Homo sapiens: one gene and its partners. The protein of the gene in region 3 interacts with the protein of the main gene of each other region in a biochemical or structural test. Each region holds a gene or a part of one and is shown on either strand. Other genes may lie near its edges.

Evidence for each region. Proteins that work in one complex are often made in the same cells at the same time.
Region 1: the proteins of POU2F2 (region 3) and NR2F1 form a complex in vitro, tested with the Homo sapiens proteins (one study listed by BioGRID).
Region 2: the proteins of POU2F2 (region 3) and MNAT1 form a complex in vitro, tested with the Homo sapiens proteins (one study listed by BioGRID).

What each region holds. Positions count from the first base shown.
Region 1 is NC_000005.10:93,578,275-93,586,237, reverse strand, and holds the start of NR2F1 (COUP transcription factor 1), read right to left. Parts: upstream 3,017-7,963; 5' UTR 1,215-3,016; coding exon 752-1,214; exon of another isoform or gene 649-751; intron 1-648. UniProt on the Homo sapiens protein: Coup (chicken ovalbumin upstream promoter) transcription factor binds to the ovalbumin promoter and, in conjunction with another protein (S300-II) stimulates initiation of transcription. Binds to both direct repeats and palindromes of the 5'-AGGTCA-3' motif.
Region 2 is NC_000014.9:60,737,755-60,744,776, reverse strand, and holds part of MNAT1 (CDK-activating kinase assembly factor MAT1), read right to left. Parts: intron 1-7,022.
Region 3 is NC_000019.10:42,122,428-42,129,449, reverse strand, and holds part of POU2F2 (POU domain, class 2, transcription factor 2), read left to right. Parts: intron 1-5,155; exon of another isoform or gene 5,156-5,271; intron 5,272-6,523; exon of another isoform or gene 6,524-6,725; coding exon of another isoform or gene 6,726-6,753; exon of another isoform or gene 6,754-6,763; intron 6,764-6,873; coding exon 6,874-6,939; intron 6,940-7,022. UniProt on the Homo sapiens protein: Transcription factor that specifically binds to the octamer motif (5'-ATTTGCAT-3'). Regulates IL6 expression in B cells with POU2AF1. Regulates transcription in a number of tissues in addition to activating immunoglobulin gene expression.

The DNA.
Region 1 (7,963 bases), on a different chromosome or scaffold from region 3:
TGCTTTAAAAAAAATGACACAACTATGAAAGCACGGTTCAGTCACAAACTTTCCTTTCAAAGTAGAGGGGTGAAAACAAGGCCACAGCTCTGGAGGAGGCGGCCCCAGCTCCGTGAAGAAGAGAGGGAACCAGTGAACGGGCCAGAAGCCCCCCTTCCCCCCTAATTAGACCTACAAGTGCAATAAATCTCACTCCTCTTTTTCCGAGCTAAGCTTCCAAAAGGATGATGGCAGCAATGAATCTATGGTTCAGGGTACTCCAGCCCCCAGCCCTCCCCCATTTTAAATAAAGGGTATGAAGAGGTGGAGGGAAAAGTGGAATGAAAAAAAACCACAGAAACAGAGTTTTCTGGGGGAAATAAGCACCCCTCCCCAAGTTCATGCCAGCACAGCCCCAAGCAGCCTCACGCACACGCGGGAAAGAGACACACACCGAGCACATCCAAGACAGAGGGAAGAAGGGGATTTTAAGCCACAGCTCACGATCTCAGGGACACAATCCTGAGCAGGCAGCGGGCGGGGTGGGGGAGCCGGGGAGATGAGCGCAGGCCGGGAGGGGGAGGCAGCGGCAGCGAGCTGGGGAGGGCGGGGGGAGACGCCGGGGGAGGAAGGCAGCCGGGAGAAGGAAAGCTGGGACGGGCCGGGACCACAGGAGCCCCAGCCCCACACAGCAACCACCCGGGCGAGAAAGAAAGAAAGAGCCAGGGAGGCGGGCGAAGCGCGGGGAGAGAAGCAGAGAAGAAATATTCACCTTCCCGCCTCATGCCCACTTTGAGGCACTTCTTGAGGCGGCAGTATTGGCACTGGTTGCGGTGGTGCTGGTCGATGGGACAGTTCCTGTTGGCACGGCATGTGTAAGTTAAGTTCCTGCGGACGCTCCTCTTGAAGAAACTTTTGCAGCCCTCGCAGGTGAATTGGCCGTAGTGCTTGCCGCTCGACTTGTCCCCGCACACCACGCACTCGATGTGCTGCTGGCTCTGGCCCGAACCGGGCGGGCCCTGGCCCTTGTCCCCCGCCGTGCCGGGGGTGGCGGGCGCTCCGGGCTGGCCCGGGGTCTGCGGCGTGTGCGGCGCGCCCGAGCCCGCCTGCTGCTGCTGCTCGCCGGCGCCGCCGCCGCCGCCGCGGGCCGCCTGCGCTGCGGGGTTGGGGCCGCCGGGGTTGCCCCCGGCCACGTCGTCCTGCGGATCTCGCCAGCTGCTAACTACCATTGCCATATCTTTGGGCCCGGGGAGCGCTGGGGGGAGCCGAGCTGCTCGCCGAGGGCCGCGGGGCGCGCGGGCGCGCTGGGAGGGGAAGGGGAAGGGGAAGGGGGGAGGGGGAGGGGGCGGGGGGCCCGCCGGGCGCCCCGGGGTCGCAGGAGCCGAGCCCGAGCCGGACACCGGCCGCTGCCTCCGCCGCCGCCGCCGCTGCCGCCGCTACTGCCTCGGCCGCCCCGCTGCTGCTGCGCGCCCGCCCGCCCTGCTGGCGTTTTGTTGTGGTTCCTGCTGTTTTCTTTCTCTCTTTTTGCAGCCCCCCCAGGCTCTCAGGCTCCCCCCCCAACACCCCTGCTCCCCTCGCCCGCTCCCCCCGCGCTCCGTTCCTGGGGGGGCCGCGCTCTCCTTCCCCCCTCCCCACCCCCCGGCGAGCAAGCTCCCTTCTCTCGCTTTTTTCTTCTTCCCCAAGTTGCAAAATCAGAAATGGCACAGGCGGCAGCCGGGAGCGGCGCGGGGCGCAGCGCCGGGGGCGGCGGGCATGGGCCACGGCGCGCGCACACACTCGCCCTCCGCCTCGCCCGCACCCCCGCGCACACACACACTCGCACACACAGTCGCTCACCCGCGCCGGGCGCCCGCCCGCCGGCCGCTCGGGCTACGCGCAGCGCGCGGGCTGAGCCGACATAGAGGAAGCCGGCGAGGGCGGAGGCGGCGGCGGCGGCGGAGGAGGAGGAGGTCGCGGCTGCAGGCGCCGCTGGAGCTGCCGCCGGAGCTGCTGCGGCGAGCGCCGCTGGAGGAGCCGGGACCCGGGCCGGAGTCCGAGCAGGAGTCGGGGCCGCAGCCGGAGCGCGAGCGGAGGCCGGGGCCGCCCGCGGCGCCGCCGCTGTCCCGGCGGGAGCCCTCGCCGGGCTCGGGAGTGCGGGGAGCGCGGTGAGCCGAGCAGGGCGCTGGGCGAGGCTGCCGCCGGCGATCAGGGCGCGCGGGTGTCGGGGGGCCAGGTCCAGGGCCGGACGCAGCCAGCCATTCAGGAAGGCAGCGCTGGAGAGCGGGAGGCAGCCGGCGAGGAAGATCACACACTTTGCTCTTTTTGTTGTGCCGGTGGCGCCGGGCTCTCGCTGCCTTCTTCTTTCGGGAGGTGACGGAAGGGGGAGAAAAATACGGGATAATTCACGCCGGCGACGAAATCACAGCGAAATAGAAAAAATAAAAATCAGAAGAAAATAATTGCCAAAAAAAGGAAAAAGGAAAAGCGAGAGAGACATCCAAAGTAGGTCGAATAAATAATCCTCTTCTTTTCCTCTTTCTTGCTCCTTCTTCTGCTTCTTCTGCTATAACACACAGAGCTAGTTAAAAAAACCCTGGAGATCGCCCAAAAATGTTCTTTTTTTAGTATTTTAAATAAGTGCTCTTCAGCCGGCAACCAACACCCTCCCTCCAAAAAAAATCATATATGTATAAAATAACGATAAGAAGAATACGAAGGGGGTGCCTCCTCCTCCTCCTCCTCCTTTTTTTTTTCTTTAAGTTTAGCCCTCTCTCTTCTGCAGGAATGGAGTAAAAGAGACAAGGAGGAGGGAGAAAAAGGAGAGAAAGGAGAAGAAGAAGGGGAAAACAACTAGTAGAATATGTAAGAAAAGAGAAAGAGAAGAGAGGTTCAGAGAAGAGAGGAGAGAGAGAGGAGAGGAGGGAGAGAGGGGGGAGAAAGAGGAGAGAGAGAGAGGAGAGAGAGAGAGAGAGAGAAGAGAAGAAGAGAGAGAGAGAGAGAGAGAGAGACCCAAAAATTGAATGCGTTTAAACGGGAGGACTCGCAGAGCAATGTTTCCGAAAGGGGGATCTGCGCGAATGTCTGTATATAGTGAACTTTGACACTACTATTGAAACTGACACGTTTCTATGGAGATCGCTGCCTTATATGGAGCTCGTGTCAAGGAGCCAAGAGAAGGGCTGCTGGCAACTGATAATCAAAGGCGACTGACTGGTCAGAGCCCTGAATCGGGGGGAGAGAAAATGGGAGGCTAAGGTTAGCCAAGCCTCCTGCACGCCATTGGTTGGAGAGCCCCTCCCCCCTCCTCTTTTGCTTTCTTTCTCCCCCCCCCGCTTAGCTACCTACAGACTGGGATGGTGTGGGGAGGAGGAGAGAAAGTGAGGGAGGGGGGTGTGTTTCTGACAAGCGCAATTTACATTGAGATCGCCCTGCGCTGCTATTTACTCTGAGACCTGATTAGTATGGGTCGTCTATGGTCACACACACACACACATACACACACACACACTTACGCTCACACCCCAGAGGGGGAAGGGATGACGAGGGGGAGAACGCCTAGCGATGGGCAAAAGGAGAATTAGAGGGAAATTATTTTGATTTCTTCTGAAAAGTTTTTAAAATTAGATTTTATGAGCGTGAAGAGAGTGTCATTGAAAATGTTTGGAAAAATTTTTAATGGGAATGAAACCCCCACCATTTTAATGATTTGTGAAATATACTGGATTTGGATTGTTTTCTTCTCTCACATATAAGCACAATCCAAGTCTGGATTCTGCTCATTTTATATCCTTTTTAGAAACAAGTAGAAACAGGGTAGGATCTCCCTATTTTTTAATCCAAAGTATACCTTGGTTTAAAAGGTTTAATGATGACAAAGCACACTCCTGGAATTTGCAGCTATTGCCACAAATTCGATCGGAATCAAGGGTTCCTATTTATCCCAAAGATGATTTTAAAAATAAACTTTCCAATCAATCCAATTTTTCCTTCTTCTTTTTTTTTTTTTTTATCACCTGGCTGTTCCAAACTCCAACAATGCTTCAATCATTATTAATAAAACAGTAGTAAGTCCCCATATTGTTGCAGGGTGGGGGGAGATTAGTGTGGCCAAGTCAGTCCCGGGAAAAGAGCAAACAAACGAGAAGATGGAGAGGGGGGGAGGCGGAGAGGGAGAGAGAAAAGGGGGAGGAGGAGAGAGAGAGACAGAGAGAGAGGAGAGGAAAGGAAAGAGAGGAGAGAGGAGAGCGCGCGAGATATTGAGAGAGAGAGAGAGAGAAGAGAGGAGAGGGGAGAGAGAGAGAGAGGAGAGAGAGAGAGACCCAGAGAGAGAGGAGAGAGAGAGAGACCCAGAGAGAGAGAGAGAGAGAGAGACCCAGAGAGAGAGAGAGAGACCGAGAGAGAGAGGAGAGAGGAGAGAGAGAGAGAGGAGAGAGAGAGAGAGAGGAGAGAGAGAGAGAGAGAGACGAGAGGGAGAGGGAGAGGGAGAGGGAGAGGGAGAGGGAGAGGGAGAGGGAGAGAGGAGAGGGAGAGGGAGAGGGAGAGGGGGAGAGAGAGAGAGAGAGAGAGAGAGAGAGAGAGAGAGAGAGAGAGAGAGAGAGAGAGAGAGAGAGACCGAGACCCCGATTCCTGAATCCTGAAGGTGATTGGTCGCGGGAGGAGGGGCAGGCGGGAGGAGCGGGTCCCGCGGCGGGGCTTGCAGGAATCGCTGGCTCCGGCTGCCACCTAGCGGACGGGAGCCGCTCCCGGGCGGCACACAGCCGAGTCCCTCCTCCCCTCCCCGCAGGCAGCCTGTGCCTTTTCTCCAAACGAAGACAGCACTTTGAAAATTCTTTCAATGGATTTTTTTTTCCTTGAAAGATCGTACTGGGGGAAAATGATACTTCTATTAGTTACATATTCTCCAATCGCATACTCGCACCCCCCTCGTTTTGAGATCGCTCCCCTAGGCAGGCTCAGGCGGGCGCGGAGCCGCGCGGAGTGACAAAGCCGCCGCTGCCGCCGCCGGGGGTGGGAGCCGCGCTCGCCCGCCCGCCCCTCGACTCGCGAGGGCGTAAAAGTTTGTCTCAGCTCGAGCATTCCTAGCGCCAACACGCCCTCAGGTAAAGGTGGAAGTAAATGGCCACGCTGTATTGACAGAGGTAGGGTTTGTTTTTTAATACTCGTTCTCACTTTAAGTCTCACCAGGGAGGGGTTTGGGAAGCACTGCGTGTTTGGGGGACGTTTTGCGCTTCCTGGTCTCTCCAGCCTACAAGTCGGGAGTCGGCGACCGCTTAGTGACGAGCGATGATTTTAAAGAGCAGAATAAAAGGTTTTCCCGTGCCTGCCCCACAGCCCCTCCAGCTCGAATAATGGAGAACTGTCAATGCACTCCGCGAGCGGTGGCCCATTGTACGCAGCTGATGGCGAGGAGGCGACTGGGGGTAGCAGGGGCTCCTTGCCCTCGTCCCTATGCCCAAATAAACGCGCAAACGCGCTCCCGTCTTCTGGTCAGTTAAAAGGTGAAACGAACACGATTAAAATAGACCAAAAGAAAAGAAAGAAAAGAAAACCTTTCTATGTACAGATTCTAAATCGTACTCCCCATACAGTCAGAGGCAGGGAGTCGAGGGCAGAGGCAGCAGGCGGAGAGAGGGAGATAGGGCGAGGGAAGGAGAACGCGGAGAGAGACGAAGGGAGTGGGAGACCAGCGACAGCGAGCGCCAGGGCACCGCAGGCACACTGGATGCCCAGTCCGCCGGCCCAGCCGCCCTCGGACCCTGGACCGTGCGTCGTGGGCACCAGAAACGAGACTCGGCCAAATCCTGCCTCACCAGGCAAGTAACATAATGGTTGTCGTTTCTCTTGAACTTGGGGTTGGTAACGGGCAGGGCCGGGAGGCAGTCTTGGCTCGCACGGCCTCCGCAGGCCGAGAGCAGAGTCTAGGCAGCCAGGGCGGGACGAGGAGAACTTTCTTCGGGGCCTGCTCGGGAGTTGCCCTCGCTCGGCCTCTGTCTCGCCGTAGCGCTAAGGCGAGGATCGCGGCCGCCGCGCCTCCTTGGAGGGGAGGATCGTGCCAGGCGAGCAGCAATCCACATTCAAAACAGGCTGCTCCCACCCCCACCCGCTATTCCCTCTCTCTCCTAGGCGGGAAACGGATGCCCGGGCGGAGGACGGGGACCCGCACGTTTAACACCGGCCCGGCTGTTCCTGCTGGTGCCGAGCGCGACCCGCGGTGGAGCCGGCTGCAGAGTCCGGCCCGGCTGGCCCTTGTGCCCGCGCCTTGCCTGGTTACGGCCTGAACCTGGCGAGCTTGGCTGCAGCCGCCCACCTGCGGACGCCGTTTGTAACGCCATCCCCTAATGTAACGCGATCGATGGCTGCCTGTCTGATGTGGGCGATAGTGTCAGCGGATTAAAAGGGACATCGAGCCGCTCTCCCGAGCAGACAACCTGCGGCGGCGGCGAGAGAGCACCGGGATTCGCAGCCTAGCAGCCGAGCCAGACTCCCTGCGCCGCTGCCAGCCGGCTGGGGGCGGGGAGGGGGTCGCCTCCCAGGGGTGGGGACAGAGGGGGTGTGTTGAAAGGAAGAGGCTCAATTAAAACCAACAAGAGCGCTTTCCTCCGTGCGGGGCAGGGGCGTGCGTTTGCGTCAGAGGGCGCGCGGGGGGCGGGGGCAGCCGATGCTGGGGACTGCACCCGGGGGCTGGGGGGTCTCGGAAGCGAGGAGGCCTTGCCTAGCTGGGCTGGCCCGGGGTCAGGCCCTGTAGGTGAGGGCCAAGGCGAGACGGGATGACAGCTGAGCCTGCCCGGGAGCAGAGGCGCCCACCCATCCTTACTGTGGGCTCTCCGTGCCCCCACAGAGCTTTCAAACTTGAAAGAGGCCCCTGGGACCCGGCGTGACCCTAGCGGTGGGGAGAAGTTGGGCCCGCGAGGCCTCAGGCGAAGCCGCGGGCTCCTCCGGAAGGAAGGAGGAGGGTGAAGTCCCCTGTCCTAGTCCCAGGGGTGGGAGTGGGAAGCTGTTGGTGGTGATGCCCGGAGCAGCGGAAGCCCGCGGCTTTTCGGAGGAGGGGAGCGGCTCGCACTCCTACGGGGCATCCTTGCCAACTTTCTGTCACAAGAGGGGGCGGGGAGAAACCAAGGCTTTTCGAGGAGGGCGCTGTCCCCCTCTGGAACTCGTCCGGCCTGAGTGGCACTTAGAGCTCAGTTTCTCTTCGGAAGCCTGTGCTCCCCGACCGCGGTTGCACACCCACAGGGCGCCCCACTTGTGCTCATAGCCCTGCCTCCAGCAAAAATGTCTTCCCTAGAGGCACTGAGAGGTCAGCTTAGTTCCTGGGAAGCCCTTTCTTTCTTTCTTCAAGGCTCTCTTTTGATACTGGTCCCAATTGGCACACTTGTCCTGGGCCTAATGCGACCCACACTCAACCAGGAAATAATGATATCTGTTGTTGTGGGGTAGGGTACCTAATAGAAAACTGATCATAGTTTTCGAGAGTACTTAGATCCCCCAATTGGGAAATCCTACATACTTGTCCAGGCACGCTCAGCTGCAGGAGCAGAAAACGCAGTTGTAGTGTCCACGTTTCTTTCACCCACCCCCTCTTCTTCAGATCTCTCTCCCTCCCTTCTAGGCCAGGCCTTTCACCTCGGAACCTTAAGCTGAGTCTGGACGTGGTTCTTGGACTCGGACCGCTGTGGCTCTTGCCTCAGCATCCTACCCGAGGCCTCCAGCCAGGCCCACAGGGGCTCAGCCCTCTCCAGGGTCTCTCTTTCGGTTTGGCGGGTCTGGGAACTGTAAGGGCCTTGCCGGGGCCTGGGCTCCCGGGAGCCTCCCTTCCTTCCTCTGCCTTCCTGGTTCCCACAGACCTGTTCAGTGCACACTAGATCTTTAGTGTAGTTCCCCAAAAAGGCGATGAGAAGGTACCGCTCCGCTTGGGGAAAGGAATTAGGCTGTAAGCCTATAGTACCCCTTGCGGGCTGCTAGCATCAAGCTCAGCGTTAATCACGTTTTAAAAGACATACCAGACAAA
Region 2 (7,022 bases), on a different chromosome or scaffold from region 3:
ATATTCTAGGTGCACCCTAACAAAGACTAAAATCAAGCCCCAACAAGTTTTTGAAGGGATTAAAAATGTGAGGTTGAGTTACACTAAAGTAAGGAAACAATGGGTTCTCCACATATCATTCTAGCAAAGAGTAAAACCAAGCCTACACAAGTTCAAAGTTATCTGCCAGTAACTGAACTACCTGCAAGAATTTTTAAAATCAACACTTTTCACAAAAATACAAAATCCAGAATCTCTATAATATACCACCTACAATTAAAAAGTAGTAAACATGCAAAAATAAATAAGCAGAAAACTGTAACCTACAGTCAAATAAAAGCAGTCAATAGAAACCAACCCTGAGATGGCTGGGCGTGATGGCTCACACCTGTAATCCCCGCACTTTGGGAGGCCGAGGCACGCAGATCACTTGAGGTCAAGAGCTTGGGACCAGCCTGGCCAACAGGGCAAAACCCCATCTCTACTAAAAATACAAAAATTAGCCAGGCATGGTAGCAGGCACCTGTAATCCCAGCTACTTGGGAGGCTGATGCAGGAGAATCACTTGAACCTAAGAGGTGGAGGTTGCAGTGAGCCAAGATCATGCCACTGCACTCCAGCATGGGCAACAGAGTGAGGCTCTCTCAAAAACACAAACAAAAAAGAAACCAACCCTGAGATAGCCAAGGAGTTAACTCTTACAGACAGAAACCTTAAGATTGACTATCATAAATATTTTAAAGGAATTAATGGAAAATATGTTCAAAAAATTAAAGGAAAATGCATTCAAAGAACTAAAGAAAAATATATTCTTGATGAGTATATAGATGGGAAATATCAGAGAAATGAAAACTATAAAAAAGATAAAAATGAAAACTCTACGACCAAAACAATACAATAAGAAATGAAAAATCTATTGGATGAGATTAGAAATGGCAGACAGGCAACAGTGAACCTGAAGATAGATCAATAGAAAATATATAATCTAAAGAACAGGGAGAAAGAGATATGAGTAAAATTAACTTCTCAACAGAAACACTAGAGAACAATGAAATGATATCTTTTGTATGGTCAAAGAAATGCCAACCCATAATTCTATATTCAGCAAAAATATCCTTCAAACACTAGGGTGAAATAAAAACACTTTCTTATAAACAAAATCAGAGTATATTCTTCACCAACACACCTACACTATAAGAAATGCTAAGGAGCTGGGCGCAGTGGCTCACGCCTGTAATCTCAGCACTTTGAGAGGCTGAGGCAGGCGAATCACCTGAGGTCAGGAGTTCAAGGCCAGCCTGGCCAACATGGTGAAACTCCATCTCTACTGAAAATACAAAAATTAGCCGGGCATGGTGGCACACACCTGTAATCCCAGTTACTCAAGAGGCTGAGGCAGGAGAATCGCTTGAACCTGGGAGGCGGAGGCTGCAGTGAGCCGAGATTGTGCCATTGTACTCCAGCCTGGGCGACAGAGCAAGACTCCGTCTCAAAAAAAAAAAGAAATGCTAAAGAATGTTCTTTAGGCAGATGGAAATCAATATGACTATAAAATCAGATCCAAAGGAAGAAGGGCAATATCAAAGATAGTAAATAGGTGAAAATAAGAGACTATATTTCACCACTTCATACCCACTAGAATGGCTATAATCAAAAGACAACTATAACAAGCATTGGCAACTACATAGAGAGACTAGAGCCCTCATTCACTGCTATAAGATGGTACAGCCACATTGGAAAACAAACTAAACAAAGAGTTACCATATGATCCAATAATTCTACTCCTAAATATATACATGAGAGAAACAAAAACATTTGTCCATACGAAAACTTGTACATGAATGTTCACAGCAGCATTATTCATAACAGCCAAAAAGTAGAAATGACTCAAATGTTCTTCAACTGATGAATGGATAAAATGTAGTATAGCCATACAATGGAATAATATTCAGCAATAAAAAGAAATGTTGTACTCATACATGCTACAACATGGATGAACCTAGAAAATATTACACTATGTAAAAGAAGCCAGTCCAGAGAACCACATACTGTATGATTCCATTTATATGAAAGGTCCAGAATAGGAAAATCTACATAGTCAGAAAGTAGATAACTGGTTGCCTAGTGCTATGGGAGGGGGGAGTTGAGGAGTGTGACGGCTAAGTGGTGAGAGGTATCTTTGTGGGGTAATATGTACATCTCTGAGAATATACTAAAAGCCATTGAAACGTACACTTTAAATGTGTGAATTTTATGGTACGTGAATTATATTCAGTGAAGTAGTTTTTTAAAAACATACCTTTCCTTAAAGACAACTGACTGTTTAAAGCAAAAATAACAACAAATCACAAATACAAATAAAAGATATGCTGAAAGAAACCACTAATAATAATAATAACAATGAGGAGTTAATTGTTGGCCATAAAAGGTGACTGTAATCCCAGAACTTTGGGAGGCTGAGGTGGGTAGATCACTTGAGGCCAGGAGTTTGAGACCAGCCTGGGCAACACAGTCAGAGACTAGCTCTACAAAAAAAAATTAAAAATTAGCTGGCTGTGGCAGTGCACACCTGTAGTCCCAAATTCTGGGGTGGCTGAAGTGGAAGGATCCCTTGAACCCCTGAGTTCAAGGTTGCAGTGACCTGTGATAAAGCCACCACACTCCAGCCTGGGTGATAGAGTGAGATCCTGTCTCTTATTTAAAAAAAAATAAAAATAAATAAAAAATAAAAAGCTACCGGCTAATAGGCCAATACTTTAAAAAATCCAATTATTTCAAAATAAGGCAGGAAAGGAGCAAAAGAACAACAAAAAAACCAAAGGAATACAAGGAAACATGTAGACTTAAACCCAATGATATCAATAATTAGATATAATGGACTAGTACACCAATTAAAAGGCAGAGATTGTCAATCCAGATAAAATGGCAAGACCCAGTGAAGTAGAGTCTCCCAGAGACAGACACAAATTGGTTGAAAGTAAATGGATGGGGGCCAGGTACAGCAGCTCACTCTTGTAATACCTACATTTTGGGAGGCCCAGGCAGGAGGATCACTTGCGCTCAGGCGTTTGAGACCAGCTTGGGAAACATAGCAAGACCCCATCTCTACTAAAAATTAAAAAAAAAAAAAAAAAAAAAACCCCAGGCGCAGTGGCTCACGCCTGTAATCCCAGCACTTTGGGAGGCCGAGGCAGGAGGATCACGAGGTCAGGAGATCGAGACCATCCTGGCTAACACAGTGAAACCCTGTCTCTATTAAAAATACAAAAAATTAGCCAGACGTGGTGGCCCGTGCCTGTAATCCCAGCTACTCGGAAGGCTGAGGCAGGAGAATGGTGTGAACCTGGGAGGCGGAGCTTGCCGTGAGCTGAGATCGCGCCACTGCACTCCAGCCTGGGCAACAGAGCGAGATTCCATCTCAAAAAATAAAAATAATAAATACATAAATAAATAAATAAGCCAGGTGTGGTGCCATGCACCTGTAGTCCTAGCTACTCAAGAGGATGAGGCAGGAGGATCATTTGAGCCCAGGAGTTTATGATTGTGCCACTGATATTACATGGGTTAAAAAATTTTTTTAAAGTAAATGAACGGAAAAATGCACACTATCAAATAGTAAGCACAAGAAATCTGACAGTGCCAAATTATTATCAGACAGAATCTTCAGGAAAAAGCATATTACAAGAGACAAAGAGGGCCATTTCATAATGATAAAAGGAGAAATGTATTAGGAAGGCATAACAATCCCAAATATGTACCCAACAAGAGAGTTCCAAAATGCATAAAGTATGACAAAACTTACAAGAAAAACTGACAAATCTATAATCATAGTGGAGTAATTCATAAGATGAGTAGATAAAATAAATTAATAAAGATACAGAAGATCTGGTAATGCTATCAACCAAGATGGGTATGGTAATATGTACCACGTTTATAACTTATACTACACTACACCCAACAACCACAGAATGTATATTCTTTTCAAATGTACACTGATTGTTCACAAAGACAGGCCATATGCTGGACCATAAGCAAGCTTTCAGAAAACTTCAAAAGACTGAAATTTTATAGAGTATATCCTCTTATCACAACAGAAAATTATAAAATAATATATCTAGAATGTTCCTGTTCTAAATCTTCCACCTAAAATAAGTGCCTTTTCCTAATTTTCTACCCAGAGGGGGCTCTGTTTCCCAATTTGCACAAAGGTACTGAATAAGATCAGTATATTAAATGAGTTAACACCACTTATTATTCTTATCAACAAATAAATTCAAACTTAATCTGATAAAACTTTTAAACATAACTAACAATTTAGAGGAAATACTGAGAACAGAAGAACATATTTAACAATATCACAGAGATGCAATAAGCAAAATTCGGACTCTTCAGGATAAACTATCCAGTAACATCAGTAAATGAGAGAGAAATAGGAGAACAGAAAAAAAAGGGAAAAAAAGAAAGAGAAAGATGTTAAGTAACTATCACAAAACATTGCCTTTATATATCAAGATGGTAGGTACTTGATTTTGCTTATCTTGTACTTTGCGTCTCGTGCGTGATGAAAAAAGTAGATTTAGCACATAAAATTTCCAGAGACAGGTTTTGCCAAGAATGGTTGGGATAGAAATTAATTTTTTTTTAAGATGGAGTCTTGCTCTGTAGCCTAGGCTGGAGTGCAGTGGTGTGATCTCGGCTCACTGCAACCTCTGCCTCCCAGGTTCAAGTGATTCTCCTGCCTTAGCCTCCCCAAGTACCTGGGATTACATGCCCATGCCACCACACCCAGCTAATTATTGTATTTTTAGTAGAGACGGGGTTTCACTATGTTGGCCAGGATGGTCTCGAACTCCTGACCTCAGGTGATCCACCCGCCTCAGCCTCCCAAAGTGCTGGGATTACAGGCGTAAGCCACTGCACCCAGACAGAAATTAAATTATTAAAGGCTGTAGTTAAATGAGAATTAGATACCACTGCCTCCATCTAATTCTATATGCCTTCAGAATGGAAGGCCCATTTCTTGAAATAGGTGGCCTGATAAAGAAAAAAAATTACCATTTTCTGTAATTGAGACAATGTTCATCCTTGAACAGAAAAAATTAAAAAAAGAACATGAAATCCAATCTTCTTCTATATGCATACAATCAATTCATTTGTGCATTTGCTAGATTAAATTGATAAGTAGGGAAATATGCTTCTTCAATTGCTAGCAGCTAAGAGACAAAGGTATTTAATAATGTTTCACCTCTTTTCTCTCCTCTCTGCTCCTGTATTTTCTCCCATAAGTAAAACTCCTAGTTAATTTTTCCATAACCCTATAGTTCCTCTTTTATGAAGCACTACTCCTACTCACTTTATCACTTGCCTCCAAAAAGTCTTTGCTACTTGAGGACATGAAAAAAAAAAAAATAAGTTAATAAAATCCTGCGGAAGCCAGCCTTCAAGATAGCCCAATGATATTCACACTCTTGGTATTCACACTCTTGTGTGTACTCTCCCACATTATAACACTACAAAACACCAGAGGTGATGGTATATCACTTCTATCATTAGGTTTTAAAAGGCTCTACAGCTTCCAGTTCCCTTCCTCCCTCCCTTTCTCTCTTCTCCCATCCATCTCTCCAATCTTCCTTACCTCCGCTCATATCACTAGTTCTGGGAGAAGCCACGTCATAAGTAGCCCTATGGAAGAGTCCATGGGGAGGAACTGAAGCCTCCTGACAAGAGCCACATGAGTGACCTTGGAAACAGATACTCCAGGCCCAGTCAAATCTAGACTGCAGTCCTAGCCAACAACTTGATTACAACATCCTAAGACCGAGCCAGAATCATTCAGCAAAATAATACCTGCTCTTCTCAGACTAACAAGCATATTATAAAAATGCCTATATTCAATCCCATGAAATATATGCCATAAAAACTCAACAAACTATCAAAAAATTTTTCATTAAGAGCCAAAATGAGGCTGGACACGGTGGCTCACGCCTGTAATCTCAGCACTTTGGGATGCCAAAGCGGGTGGATCACCTGAGGTCGGGAGTTCAAGACCAGCCTGACCAACATGGAGAAACCCCATCTCTACTAAAACTACAAAATTAGCCAGAGGTAGTGGCGCATGTCTGTAATCCCAGCTACTCGGAAGGCTGAGACAGGAGAACTGCTTGAACCCGGGAGGCAGAGGTTGTGGTGAGCTATCACGCCATTGCACTCCAGCCTGGGCAACAAGAGCAAAACTCCATCTCAGGCCGGGCGCAGTGGCTCACACCTGTAATCCCAGCACTTTGGGAGGATCGAGGCGGCTGGATCACGAAGTCAGTAGTTCGAGACCAGCCTGGCCAACATAGTGAAACCCCGTCTCTACTAAAAATACAAAAATTAGCCGGGCATGGTGGCATGCGACTGTAGTCCCAGCTACTCGGGAGTCTGAGGCAGGAGAATCACTTGAACCTGGGAGGTGGAGGTTGCAGTGAGCCTAGATCATGCCACGGCACTCCAGCTTGTGTGACAGAGCAAAACTTCGTCTCAAAAAAAAAAAAAAAAAAAATCCAAGATGTTTTTCTTATCAGAAAAGCATCTGATAAGATGCTTTTAAACATCTTTTAAAATGCAAGATTTTAAAAAATAATATTAGCCAATATAGGCAAAGTTGTGTGGCAATAGGAATCTCCATACAGTTGTTGGTAACATAATTGACAAGATCTTTTTTTTTTTTTTTTTGTAAGATAGGGTTTCCCTCCTGGCTAACACGCTGAAACCCCGTCTCTACTAAAAATACAAAAAAATTAGCCGGGCGTGGTAGCGGGCGCCTGTAGTCCCAGCTACTCGGGAGGCTGAGGCAGGACAATGGCGTGAACCCGGGAGGCGGAGCTTGCAGTGAGCCGAGATTGCGCCACTGCACTCTAGCCTGGGCGACAGAGCGAGACTCCTTCTCAAAAAAAAAAAAAAAGGATAGGGTTTCCCTATGTTGTCCAAGTTGGTCTCGAACCCTCCCTCCTCAGCCTCCCAAGTAGCTAGGATTACAGGTAGGAACAACCATGCCTGTC
Region 3 (7,022 bases):
TGGGAGGGTGGAGAGGACCAAGAGTCCCAGGCCTGGGGCAGTCGGGCAAGTGAGTGTGAGCTCAGGGCTGGGCAGCCCTGGTTGAGGGGTGTCTGACCTGAGGAAGGTGGGATTCAAGGGGCAACATGGCTCCAAGGGGCCTGGTAGGGCTATGCATTGCTTTTTCTCTTTCAGTTCCCCTAAAATATTACACATTACCTATGATGAGGGGTGGGAATAGCCATACATAACCAACCAATCTTTTGTGTGTGAATGAGGCTTTGAGAGGGGCTTCTGAAGGTGCCAGGGGATGGAGCACATTAGAATCACCAGGAGGGGGCTGGGTGCGGTGGCTCATGCCTGTAATCCCAGCACTTTGGAATGCTGAGGTGGGCGGATCACTTGAGGTCAGGAGTTCGAGACCAGCCTGCCCAACATGGTGAAACCCCGTCTCTAATAAAAATACAAAAATTAGCCGGGCATGGTGATGCATGCCTGTAATTGCAGCTACTCGGGAGGCTGAGGCAGGAGAATCGCTTGAACCCAGGAGGCAAAGGTTGCAGTGAGCTGAGATCATACCATTGCACTCCAGCCTGGGCGACAGAGTGAGACTCTGTCTAAAAAAAAAAAAAGAGAATCACCTGGAGGGGCTTTTAAATATCTGGATGCCCAAGTCACACCCTGTACCACTGAAATCAGAGTCTAGGGTGGGAACAGGCATCAATATTTTTCTAGAGTTGAGTGATAGGCGATGGGCATCTCTGCCTGGGCTCAGGCTGAGGCTGAGGCCGAGCCATTTGATGGACCCTCCAAGTCTATGATTGCTAGTGCCCTGGAGTCCCTGTTAAGGCGTCATTTGGCTTTTAGTCCACGGTGGAAATGGAGCTCCCTGTTCATTCCTGGTGGAAATGATCTGACCCTTCTCTCAGATTGAGCTCTGACAGGGGAGGTGGAAAGAGAAAAGACAAAGGGCAGCAGTTGGCCATTTTGTTGTGACCCAGCCAAGTGTGGGGCAGGGAGTATGCAGGGATATGTAGGAGTGGTTGGGATAATTTAGGGAGAATAAGGGTAACAGAATGGTGAAAAATTTCCCTCAAACCACTCTTGTCTTTCCAGCCACAGTCTCTGCAGAGGAAATCATACCTTAAAGATTTAAGTTAGGGTTTCTTGGGGATGTTGGGTGACAGTAGAGATAGGGGTTTGTTTTAGACAGGATTGGGCCCTGGTCAGTTAGGGGATTCTTTAATGCATTCATTCATTCCAAAGACGTACTCCTAGGCCTGTGCAGCAATGACTCCAGCCTGGGCTCCTGAGGAGCCCACAGTTGGGGTGGAGGTCTCTGCCCAGGATGATCAGGATGTGGTGGAGCACAGTACAGGGTCAGTGAAGCCCAGAAGAGAGAGACACTGACCATCTGGGGAATCAGAGAGTACTTCACAGAGGAGGTGACATTTGAGCTGGACCTTAAAGAGGAGCAAGAGTTTGCCAGTAGAGAAGGAAAGGGTCACCCAAGTGGGAGACGAGCAGAGGCAAAGGCCTGGGGGAGGGAGATCAGGACCTTGGGGCCACTGATCCACATGTCTTCTGCTGGGGAGTGTTTAGGAACCTGAGATCAGATCTGCCCTTGAAAAATTCCTAGTCTGATAGGGGAGACATAGTGGGGCCCGGCTAGCTACAGTCAGCCTCTAAGACAGTGACAAGGGAAGGTGCTAGGGTATGGGGAGCTGGAGAGAGACCTGGCTGGGAGCTGGGGGCATCAAGGTGGTGGTTTCATAGAAAACAGAGCTTATGGCCGGGCGTGGTGGCTCACGCCTGTAATCCCAGCATTTTGGGAGGCTGAGGTGGGCAGATCATGAGGTCAGGAGATTGAGACCATCCTGGCTAACACAGTGAAACCCCTTCTCTACTAAATATACAAAAATTAGCCAGTCGTAGTGGCGCGCACATGTAATCCCAGCTATTTGGGAGCCTGAGGCAGGGAATTGCTTCAACCCAGGAGACCTCTGGAGCTTGCAGTGAGCCGAGATCCCACCACTGCACTCCAGCCTGGACAACACAGCAAGACTCCATCTCAAAAAAAAAGAAAAGAAAACAGAGCTTATGCTGGGTTCTGAAGGATGAGTCCGGGGGTCGCCAGGTGGACAGATTGGGGAACAGTGTTCCAGACAGAGGGAACAGCCCATGCCAAGGCCTCAGGAAATGTTTTAAATGGCAAAGTGCAGGCATGGTGGCTCATGGCTGTAATCCCAGAACTTTGGGAGGCCAAGGCATGAGGATCATTTGAGCCCACGAGTCTGAGACCAGCCTGGACAACATAAGGAGACCCGTCTCTACAAAAAAAAAAAATTTTTTTTTTAATTAGCTGGATGTGGTGGTGCACAGCTGTAGTCCCTGGATGTGGTGGTGCACACCTGTAGTCCCAGCTACTCAGGAGGCTGGGATGGGAGGATAGCTTGACCCCAGGAGGTCGAGGCTGCAGTGAGCCGTGATTGTGCCACTGCATTCCAGCCTGGCCGACAGAGCAAGACTCTTGTCTCAAAATATAAATTAAATAAAATAAATAGCAGGGAGACAGTAAGACAAGGGTGAGAAGTAGTAGGAAACAGAGACTGCTAAAGAGAGGGACATTCAGCAGTTACAACCCGTTCTGGGCTTGTGATGCTGGGGACCCAGTGATGAGTCAGACCAGGCCTGTCGCATTGGTCTTGTGGGGAAGGAACCTGGACACAGACAGCCACAACTGGGGGCTCAGGGATGGGACAGCAGGAGGGCAGGGGCTGTGAGAGGCTTAGTTTGCTAGGGCTTCCACATCAAAGTACCACAGACTAGGTGGCTGAAATAAGAGAAATTCATTTTCACAATTACGGAGGCTGTAAGTTAAAGACGAGGATGTCAGCAGGGTTGGTCTCTTCCAAGGCCTCTCTCCTTGGCTTGTGGTCCACTGGTCTTCTCCTGGGTCTTCATATGGTCTTCCCTCTGTTCCCATCTGTGACCTAATTCCCTCTTTTTCTTCTTTTTTTTTTTTTTTGAGATGGAGTCTTGCTCTGTCACTCAGGCTGTAGTGCAGTGGCACGATCTCGGCTGCCTGCAACCTCTGCCTCCTGGGTTCAGGTGATTCTCCTACCTCAGCCTCCTGAGTAGCTGGGATTACAGGCACACACTACCATGCCCGGCTAATTTTTGTATTTTTAGTAGGGGTAGGATTTCACATTGTTGGTTAGGCTGGCCTCAAACTCCTGAACTGGTGATCTGCCCACCTCGGCCTCCCAAAGTGCTGGGATTACAGGCATGAGCCACCGCGCCCGCCCCCTCTTCTTATAAGGATGCCAGTCAGATTGTAGTAAGGTCCACCCTAATGACCTTATTTTACCTTAATTACGTCTTTAAAGACCCTATCTCCAAATACAATTACATTTTGAGGTATCAGGAATTAGGACTTCCGTGTATGAATTTTGGTAGATGCAACTTAGCCCATAGCAGAGGTTAAGGATGAGTGTGGACTTTCTGGGCTGGCAGTGGGGTCCGAGGCTGCCCTGTTCTGTGGACGGGAGAGGGATGCCCAGCTAGGTGGGAGTGTAGAACCTGCACAGCCTGCTGTCAAGCAGACCCCCAAGCAGGGGGAGATGCTCGACATGGGTGAAGAGCACTGTGCATGAGCTGCAAGAGAAGAGCAGTACAGGGTGGTGGGCCAGCCCCTGGAGGCCAGGTTGTTTATTTCTCCAGGAGATAGGGAGGAGCCAGGAAAGGATTGCCCTGAGGCAATGTGGAGCTCCGCTGGAGGGACGGAGGCCAGAGGAGGCTGGGGCTGCAGTTTTAGGGATGCTAGGAGGGGTGGGATTTAGGACCGGGTTAGAGTTAGTGGCTGCCTGAAGTAGGGCTAAGGTCTGGGTGAACTAGAGCTAGGATCAGGCAGGATTCCCGCCTTTACTGCTCCAAAGTCAGGACACACTTGCTGCCCAGCTCCCTTCTTGTCCTTCTTATATCTTGTATCAGTAGCCATTTAATGCCCTGTCCCCAGGGCCAGGAAACAGGACCTGAACTCTGGTAGCGTCCTGGGCACCCACTCCCCACCCCCACCCTCAACAGTCTACATCTTTTTTTTTTTTTTTGAGACAGAGTCTTGCTCTATTATCCAAGCTGGAGTGCAGTGGTACAATCACGGCTCACTGTAGCCTCAATCTCCTGGGCTCGAGCGACCTTCCCATCTCAGCCTACTGAGTAGCTGGGACTGTAGGTGCCCACCACCATCATGTCCGGTTAACTTTTTTATTTTTTGGAGAGACGGGGATTTCACTATGTTGCCCAGGCTGGTCTCAAACTCCTAGCCTCAAGTGATCTACCTGCCTTGGTGCAGTGTGCATCTTAATGGGACTGTGTGCTGGCGTTTTGCTTTTTAGCTTTTAAATGTTTTCTTGCTTGTTAAAACATAACGTATATAGAGTAAAGTGCTCAAATTTTAAGTGTATAGCTTGATGAATTTTTGCTTATGTAAGGACCCTGTAACCACCAAACAAGATCCTTTCTTACCTGGTGCAGGCTTCCTCATGCCCTTTCCCAGTCAGTACCCCCAAGGTGCTCACTCATCTGACTGTGATCATCTGCTATCAGCTTGCCCGTTTTTGAATTTCCTGTAATTGGAATCATAAATTATGTCTGCCTTTGTGTTTGGCATCTTTCATTCAGCCTCATGTCTCCAAGCTTCGGCCATGTGTATGAAGCAGGAGTTTGTTCTTTTTCATTACTGTGGCATATTTCATTGTATGGACATACCACATTTTATTTATCCATTCACCTGTTGACGGCCCCTTAGGCTGTTTCCAGTTTGGGGCCATTATGAAAGACTGCAGAAGAATTCTGCCCATGTCCTTTGATGGGCAGGACACGTGTTTCTTTTGGGCAGATGCCCAGGAGTGGACGTGCTGCATCTTAGGGAGAGGGCATCTTTTCAGCTTTTCTGAGTGGTGCTTGTATCAATTTACACTCCCACCAGCAATGCATGACCTGTTTTTTTAATTAGGAATTTAAAACTCAAGCAGCATTTCACATTGAATAATACTCAATTGCAAGATTTCTAGACTTTTTTTTTTTTTTACAGTTACTGAGTTCTTCCTATTTCTTATCCCTTACTTTAGCTCCATTCTTTTTTTTTTTCTTTTTTTTTTTTTTTGAGACAGGGTCTCACTCTGTCACCCAGGCTGGAGCGCAGTGGTGCAGTCACAGCTCACTGTAGCCTTGACCTCCTGGATTCAAGCGATTCTCCTGCCTCAGCCTCCCCAATAGCTGGGACTACAGGTGCGTGCCATCATGCCCAGCTAATTTTTGTGTCTTTAGTAGAGATGGGGTTTCTCCATGTTGCCTAGGCTGGTCTTGAACTCCTGGGTTCAAGAGATCTGGCTGCCTCAGTCTCCCAAAGTGCTGGGATTGCAGGCGTGAACCACTGTGCCTGGCTTAGCTGTCTTCTTTAAGTATCTTGGTGCAGAGAACACTAGAGTTGGACAGCTCCTTTAGTAGGAGTGGGGTCATGGTTTAGGCAGGGATTTTGGAGTGAGTTGTGGGAAGAGTTTGGATCAGGGACAGGATCTCAGGACAGTTGGGAGTCAAGGTCAGATGAAGGACTTGAGCCATCTGGGCACAACTTGGGATTCAAGGTGAGTAAGTGGACTAAGGATGGGTCAGGCTGAAGCCCAGATTTGTCCTGGGGTCTAGGACCAGGAAGGGTTGGATTCAGTTTCAGGATGAGCTTGGGCGAGGGAACTGTTGGAGATGAGATGGCTGGAAGTCAGGACTAGGGGACATTAGACTAGAGTGGATCCGATTAGAAGTAGGAGCCCAGCAGTCATGAAGACCAGGGGTCCAATCAGGGCACATCTGCTGTCTTGCTGTGCTTTTGGGGAGGTGACATCCCTTCGTGGAGCCTCAGTTTCCTCCTCTGTAAAACGGGGTAATATTAGCACTAACCGCTAATGTGAGCTGTGAGTCATATCTAGCTCTATGCTTGGCACTGGTGAGCACTCGCCTTTCTGTGAAAAGTATCAGAGCGCTTTGAGGACAGGCATTTGTCTCCGTGGGTTTATGTGCTTGCTGCCTGCCACCCTCCCTTGGCCACCTCCTTTCATTTCCTGGGCCTAGGGAGCTATAGAATGGGGTTGTATTACAGGGGTGGACTTGAGACTGCAGCTGGGGCTCAAGCGTGAAGTCCCAGATCAGGTTTAGATTGGAGGACAAGCTCAGGGGTAGAGCCAGATGGAGCTGAGGTTACAGAGGATGAGGTTGGGTCTGCTAGGCCGGTGTGCTAAACATAGGAAGAAAGTCCAGGTGGGAGTAAGATGTGGATGGGGAAAGTGGTGGGGTGGGAAGAGGGCCAGAGGGCGGCTGAATCACACATGCTGAGATCTGACAACTGCCTCCTTTGGGGACGCTGCAGCCCCATCACATCTCTGAGGCCCCACTCAGAGTGGAAAACATGTCTCACCCGAAACCTGGTAGGGCAGGACGGGAGCCTGGGCGGCCCGCCCCAGGAGGAGGCCCAAGGCTGCTCTCCCTCCTTTGGGACGTCACCAGCCTCCTCCTGGGCAGCTGATACCTTCTCACGACCACCTTCCATCTCCTGCCCTGCCCTTTGCTGCACTGTGGGTAACACCCCTGTGTTACTTTCTGGAGAGGTGAAAGGATAAGGCAAGATCCCCCAAGGCCTAAGTGCTGTGTCTCATCTTGCCAGAGGAGGGCAGAGGCCCAGAACGGAGGACATGTCTCTTGGGAAGAGACACTTCCAAGGTGGCTGGGGGTAAGGGGGGAATTTGGGGGAAAGGCTTGGGGAGTGTGGTGGAATGGGGGCCCGAGAGCCCTCCTGGATTCCCCTCCTTCACCCCACTTCCATTCCTCCTCTGTCCCCAGAAATAAGAATGTCTAAGCCCCTGGAGGCCGAGAAGCAAGGTCTGGACTCCCCATCAGAGCACACAGGTGGGTGGGCAGGGAGCAGGGGGGCAGGGGTCACCGTGGGCAGGGGAAGTGGGACAGATGGGAAGAGAGCTGGGAGGGGACAG